2 linked regions of the Homo sapiens genome follow. The protein of the gene in region 1 purifies or fractionates together with the protein of each later gene. This does not show direct contact. Each region holds a gene or a part of one and is shown on either strand. Other genes may lie near its edges.

What was found.
Region 2: the proteins of KIF20B (region 1) and ACSL3 purify together in Homo sapiens (affinity purification with mass spectrometry; one large-scale study listed by BioGRID and IntAct). This does not show direct contact.

What each region holds. Positions count from the first base shown.
Region 1 is NC_000010.11:89,718,408-89,722,232, forward strand, and holds part of KIF20B (kinesin-like protein KIF20B), read left to right. Parts: intron 1-302; coding exon 303-465; intron 466-1,011; coding exon 1,012-1,299; intron 1,300-3,825. UniProt on the Homo sapiens protein: Plus-end-directed motor enzyme that is required for completion of cytokinesis. Required for proper midbody organization and abscission in polarized cortical stem cells.
Region 2 is NC_000002.12:222,867,477-222,871,301, forward strand, and holds part of ACSL3 (fatty acid CoA ligase Acsl3), read left to right. Parts: intron 1-3,825. UniProt on the Homo sapiens protein: Acyl-CoA synthetases (ACSL) activates long-chain fatty acids for both synthesis of cellular lipids, and degradation via beta-oxidation.

The sequences.
Region 1 (3,825 bases):
GGCAGAGGCGAGAGGATCGCTTGAGCCTAAGATGTTGAGGCTACAGTGAGCTCTGATTGTGCCACTGTACTCCAGTCTGGGCAACCGAGCTAGACCCTGTCTCAAAACAGAAACAAAAACAAAAACAAACAAGAAAAGATAAAAAGAAAACTGAGAAGGACTATTACATCTGAAACTAATCACTACCCTAAAGTTTAATTTCATGATAGGTGGCTTAATTATTTCTTTGTAAAATGTCTCAGCACCCTGATTTCATGAGATGTTTTTTAACTTACAATGTTTTCTGAAAATTTTTTCTGTAGGTTTCAACAGCATGTGCCTTTCCGGGAAAGTAAACTGACTCACTATTTTCAAAGTTTTTTTAATGGTAAAGGGAAAATTTGTATGATTGTCAATATCAGCCAATGTTATTTAGCCTATGATGAAACACTCAATGTATTGAAGTTCTCCGCCATTGCACAAAAAGTAAATATTTATTTTATTAAGCCTCTTATTATTAGAATATTAACAGTTTTTCTTGAAATAAATATTTTTTACTTAATACTGTAAGCCTAGGAAATAATTGAAAATTAAAAAGGTAAATATTTAACCAAGTAGGAAGACATGAGAAAGGATTGAAAGTTGCCCATGCTAGGATTAAAATGACCTTTAGTAATAAGAATTAGTAATAAACATCAGTTATAAATTAATGAGTATTTTTGGAATGAATTGTCTGCTCTGCCATTCATCTTGTTCATTTGGTACTTCTGGGTGATTGGAAAACCCTCTGCTAAGATTAATACTGAACACTTAGCCCAGGAAGATAGATTTTTCCTCTAGTTTACATGTGTAAGTAGCTTTTTTCCTATCAGAATGTTCTTTTAGGGATGGTGATTCCTGTTTGTATGTTTGTTTGAATAGTTTTTCCTTAACACTTGAGTGTTCATTTGACTTAAATTTATAAAATAATCATTTTCTAGTGGACAGTTCTTGTCTTTTCTGTTTTAAAAGTCACATTGAATATTTTAACAGGTTTGTGTCCCAGACACTTTAAATTCCTCTCAAGAGAAATTATTTGGACCTGTCAAATCTTCTCAAGATGTATCACTAGACAGTAATTCAAACAGTAAAATATTAAATGTAAAAAGAGCCACCATTTCATGGGAAAATAGTCTAGAAGATTTGATGGAAGACGAGGATTTGGTTGAGGAGCTAGAAAACGCTGAAGAAACTCAAAATGTGGAAACTAAACTTCTTGATGAAGATCTAGATAAAACATTAGAGGAAAATAAGGCTTTCATTAGCCACGAGGAGAAAAGAGTATGTATTAAGAACTCATACTTCTATGCTTGTCTTCTTATTCTGAAGTTAAGGTTAAATCTTAAGGCTCTCTCTCTTCAGTTTTTTTCAACAGTACACTGAAGTTTTTGTGTTCAACTTTATATTTTGAAAAATTTCAAACCTATAGAAAGACTAGTACAATGAATACTCATTTATCCTTCACCTGGATTCTCCACTTACCATTTTATGAGTATGTGAATACACATCTTTTGGTCTGTACAATTTGAAAATAAGATCCAGACATAATGACACCTTACATCTAAATATTTGAACATATTTTTCTAAGAACATGGGCATTTTCATCATGATCACAAGACCATGAAATTTTCATACCCAAAAAATTTAATATTGATACACTAATATAACCTCGTATACTGTTTGTATTGAGAGTTCCCCAGTGTTCCAAATATGTTCTTTATAGCCACTTTGTTTTTGTCTACAGCCAGAGTTAACACATTGCTTTTGATTATTGTGTTTCTTTAATCATTTCTAATCTAGCACTGACATTTTTGAAAAGTGGGTCCTAGTTTTCTCATAGAATACCTGCAATTTAGATTTGTTTGATTATTTCTTCATGATTTAGGTTTAATACATTAGGGAAGCTTTTTATGTAGGTTAAGTTGTAAATTTTCCATTGCATCACACCAAGAGCCACATGATGTCTGATTTTTCCATTCTTAGAGATGCTAAGTTTTGCTCACTTGGTTAAGATAACAGTATTTCAGATCTGTATTGCAAAACCATATTATCTGTGGGGTGTTACTTATAGACCATGTGAGTATCCTTTCACTAAGTGATTTTATGTATTCCATCAGACCTTTATTTTGCAGTCTCAAGTACAAGTGTTAAAAATATCTACCAAGTACCTATGATCCCATATCTTCAAAAACACTAATTGTTTGTCGTCTTGTTATTATGATAAATAAATAAGATTTAACGGTTGTTTTTTTAGCTTCTGTCCAATTATAGTATTTATTTATTTATTTATTTATTTTTGAGAGAGGGTCTTGCCCTGTTGCCCAGGCTAGAGTGCAATGGCACGATCTCGGCTTACTGCAACCTCTGCCTCCTGGGTTCAAGCGATTCTCCTGCCTCAGCCTCCTGAGTAGCTGGGAGTATAGGCATGCGTAACCATACCCAGTTAAGTTTTTTTTGTATCTTTAGTAGAGATGGGGTTTCACCATGTTGGCCAGGCTGGTCTCGAACTCCTGACCTTGCGATTGCCCGCCTCGGCCTCCCAAAGTGCTGGGATTATAGGCATGAGCCACCTTACCTGGCCACCTATTCCCATCTTTAATTGGCCATAACTCCGTGAGTATAGATGGAGTCCTCTTACCAGTGTCCTACAAACACTAGTAGACCTGTGTTCATGGGTGTGCTTTAATGGTGTTGACACATCACACATCACAGTACTCTTCTGGATTGCAGAAGTATAAGTAGAACGATGATGTATTAGGCTAAATACTCTCATTTTAATAATTTACCTTCATGTCCCTGAAAGCAATTATTGAACATATGTTTGGAAACAAGAATGATAGCTTCAGATGTAGTACAAGTCCCACTTTATCTGGTCACTATGTGATTAGACCGTGTTACTTGGGCTTCTGTAATGTATTAAATAGTACCTCCTCAGTGACGAAAGGAGCCTTTAATAGTCTAGTTTGGCTGGTGCAGTGGCTCACACCTGTAATTCGAGCACTTTGGGAAGCTGAGGTAGGAGGATTGCTTGAGCTCAGGAGTTCAAAACTAGCCTGGGCAACATAGTGAGACCCCATCTCTACAAAAAAGTAAAATTAGTTAGGCATGATGATGCACAGGTGTAGTCCCAGCTACTTGGGAGGCTGCAGTGGGAAGATTGCTTGAGCCCAGGATTTCTAGGCAGCAGTGAGCCATCACTGCACTACTGCACTCTGGCCTGGGTGACAGAGTGAGACCTTGTCTTAAAAACAAAGAAACAAACCAAAAAACCCAGTTTTTTTTTTTCATTTCAAAGTTGAAATTTTTGTATAATGTTGGTTAGTAAAATTTCTGAAATTACTAGAGAAAAATATTTAATGCTATAGTTTATGATGGATTATATAGTATAAATGCTTATCATATAAGATTGACTAAATATTTTAAGGAAATTCATCAAAATGTCTAATATTTGACATTTAAAAATCAATATGATTAGGTGTTGGCATGCTTTATTTTTTTCTTCTAGAGACAAAGTCTTGCTCTGTTACCTAGGCTGGAGTGCAATAGTGTAGTTATGGCTCACTGCAGCTTCGAAATCCTGGGCTCAAGTGATCCTCTTGCCTCAGTCTCCTGAGTAGCTGGGACCACAGATGCATGCCACCACCCCTAACTAATTTTTAAAAATGTTTTGTAGACATGAGGCCTTGCTCTATTGCCCAGGCTGATCTTGAACCCTTGGGCTCAGGCAATCCTCCTGCCTTGCAAAGCGCTGGGATTACAGATGTGAGTCAATGTGCCCAGCCCTTTCTTGACATTTTAATTAAAGGA
Region 2 (3,825 bases), on another chromosome or scaffold:
TTTGTGTATTCTTAAACTTTATATAGATGGTACTGCATGTATTCTTGTTCAGCATACTGTTTATTTTATCCCCACTCAAAATCACTTAGCAGTGTGGTTTCATGAATTGAGTTTCAACTCAATTCATCAGTGTGGGTTCATGTAGATTTAGGTCATTTATTTTTACTGTGACAAGTTAGTACATTTTAGGTCTATACCATATTTATTTCCCCTTTGCTCTCTTGATAGACTTTTAGGCTGTTTCCATTTTTTTTGTTATTACAAACATTATTACCGTTAAGTATTATTGAACACAAGTCTTTGTTTTAATTTTTGACACTGTAGTTAACCTGTGCTCCTTTTTCTCTGTTCTTCACATTTTTGTCTCGGCCTTCCTCTAATCGTTTCATTATTTGAGCTAAGGTACCATTCTTTGTCCATTATACTTAACAGTACAAAACTGTAATGGGCACTTTTCCTCGAAGGCTCTTTTTAGTAATCTTTACTTTAGTTAACTTTCTTTGCTTTTTTTTTTTTTAAATAAAAATATCTTAAAATATAGAAATATCTTGAACATATTTTACAGATATATATTATTTTACTTGTAATTCCATGCATGACTGCAGGGATAATTCACGTGTACCCTTTCTCTTGGGAAACGTTTCTGTGTTGATGTACATTTGATTTAGCTAATTCTGTATTTTAGTGTTTGTTTCCTTTAAATATTTTCCTCTAAATGTAGTGCACTTTTTTCATTGCAGTTTGGTGGGTAGGAACATGAGCTCAGAGTTAAGATTGCTTGGATTGGAATCCGGGCTCTACTTTTTAGCTGTGTGTCTTTGGGCAGCGTATTTAATTTCTATGTCTCAATTTCTTCATCTGTAAAATGGAGATAATAGAAATCTACCCGTAGATTGTTGTGAGATTCAAATGAGGTGTCTGGCATAGTCATTACTCAATACATATTAGCTATTTTTATTAGTTTTATTTTTTGTTAGAGTATGCAGTATTTTCTAAGCCTACTCAGTTTGTGGTGTTGCCTTCTTTTTTGAAGCAGCATTTTAACACAGACATCTATGCCTCAAGGAAATGTGTGATGTTTTATAACTGTTAGTGGAGATTGGGAAGAGATACTGTAAACTGTAGCAAACCATAAGTTGAGGTACATTAACTAGATTGTTATATTTTAATATCAATAATTTAGGATTTGGTTGGGCATGGTGGCTTATGCCTTTAATCCCAGCACTTTGGGAGGCCGAGGAGGGCGGATCACCTGAGGTCAGGAGTTTGAGTCCAGCCTGGCCAATGTGGCATGAGTCCAGCCTGGCCAATGTGGTGAAATCCCGTCTCTACTAAAAATACAAATTAGCTGGGTGTGGTAGCGGGTGCCTGTAATCCCAGCTACTTGGGAGGCTGAGACAGGAGAATTGCTTGAACCTGGGAAGTGGAGGTTGCAGTGAGCCAAGATCATGCCATTGCACTCCAGCCTGGGCAACAGAGGGAGACGCTGTCTCAAAAAAAAAAAAAAAATTAGGATTTATCGTGTTTCAATTTTTTTGAAATACGTATAAAGCACTTTGAAAGTGAGTTGACATGGTGAAATTCTCAGATAATTACCAAGGGTCTACTCTTGTTAGTTTTAAATACCTTTTGTAATATGACCCTGATAATGATTCAGATGGTGTTTCTAAGTATATTATCCTATGTCATCAACCTTGTGTTGTTCAGTGGAGAAGGAACCATTGCCATCCATGTATGTAAAGCTTCATAGGTAAATTTGAGCGAGTGACTTAACCTTTCTCAGCCTTCCATTTCAATTTCTGTAACATAAAGATTTCAATTCTTACCTCACAAGGTTATCATGACTTATGTTAGTTGCTTCCTTCATCTCTCTGGCTCCCCTGTCTTCTCTTGTAACTTCCTTTTTTTCTGTTTTCCCTATGTATATTCTTTCTTCCTCTTTATCCCTTCTCTGCCCTTCACAAGTAGTTTTTTGGTAAATGGTAACAAGACATTCTGAACCAGTGTGTGAGTGAACCCATTATATTAATAAAAATACACATTATTTAAAGGGGACTAGGAAATGTTAATTCTGTAAGGACAAGAGGATTTAGGCCATATGAAGTTACAGAGGAGATGCTGTAAATGTTAAATGAGCAGTATAAAGGACAGAGAGGTCATGTTTTGCCACAGTAGCCAGGGAATGGTCAGCTGAGCAAAATGAGACTAATGTTAGATTTGAAGAAAGATTTGTGAGGAAGGTATTCACATAGGATGTCCAGTGGGCAGTGGAGTTTGGAAGATTGGCAAATAAAACTGAGCCATCAACTGCTTGGGAGGACTCAGGAAGCTGTGAGGATAAATCACATCCCATGGGGAAGAAAGGCACATGGACTTGGAGGACAAAAGCAATTAAGACCTAGCGTAACCTCTTTATTTATTGATTAAACTCTGAAAGTAGTTGTTGAATGAATTAAACCTTCTAGGAATAGAAAGGGAGAACTAGCAGCTAGCAAATGGAGAGAATTGAGTGGCTCTGAGTTGTTGCAGGAGGAGCTTTGAAGGTCTGGCCCGAGTTGTTTGTAACCCTGCCGTTGAGACTGGTGGTGTGGCATTGTCTGTGCCATTTAGTCTGACTGGACTTCTGGTTTTTTTTTTTTTTTGGTCTGTAATCCTTTCTTGCTTTTGGGGGATGGAGAGGGATCTGCTTCATCACTGTTCTTTTTACCTCCTTTTCCCCCTCCTTTACTTGACTCAGGATTTTTGTTACCTGTGCCATATTTATTTCTTAGGTGTCTTTGACTTTATCAGTTAGCTTTGTGCATTTCCCCATGTATTCATTGATGTGTTTACTACCTGGAATTTAATGGGGTGTTTGCATGAGTCTCTTCCTCTTTTGACATCTCAATAAGCAAGATTCTCATGGAAACCATCTCAGAGGCAGTGGGCAGTAAATAGATGGAGTGAAAGATGAGGCAGAACTGTTTCTCTGCATTCTATATTGAGATGTACAATTGTTTAACAAATAATTACAAAAGAAAATGAGTGCCATGAGAGAGTGCCCTAAGGGGTCAGCGGATGGGTAGAGAAGTTCAGGCTGGGGCTAGGGCCAGTGGAGGTTTGGGTATCAGAGAATGCCTAATCAATTTAGATGCTAAGAGATAACTAGGCTTTGAATGTATGCAGAAGAATAAAGGACATTCCAGGTAGAGCTAACAGGGCAAAATGAGCAAAGGCAGAGAAGACAGGTAAGGGAGACAAAGAAGTGGATGGAATTGATTTGTTTGTAGTGTGCGAAGTAGAGAGTTGGAAGGTGAGAGTTGAAAAGTAAGCTGACTTCAAGTTGTGGAGAGTCTTAAGTACTTGGCAGACGAGTTTGGAATTGTTTTTTATTCCTTCTTTTTTTTCCCCTTTTGGACAATGAGGAGGGAATTGAGATTCTTGAAGAGAGGATTGATGTGAAATACGGGTTATAAGGGAGTGGCAACGTCACACTGGCAACATGAATGAAGGATGCATTGATGGAGGAGGGGGAGAGGGGACTAGAGACAGAGGAATAGTTAAGGATACAGTTGAATTCTGCCAGGTGACAGGAGTAAGGACCTGAACTGATAAAGTAACACGTGAGAAAGGGCAGGAGGCAGGGGATGACAGAGGAAGCAGAACCATCGGGACTTGGCAACTGACTGGATCTTTGCAGGGCAAGGGAAGGGAACATTACCAAATGCTTTTTAAGTTTTGAGTAAGTTCTAGAAATGGGAAGAGTCAGCTTTCCATTTGAGTTGGGAAAGGTGAAAGCAGAGTGACAGTAGAAGATGTGGAAAGGAGAATTCAGTTAAAAAAATT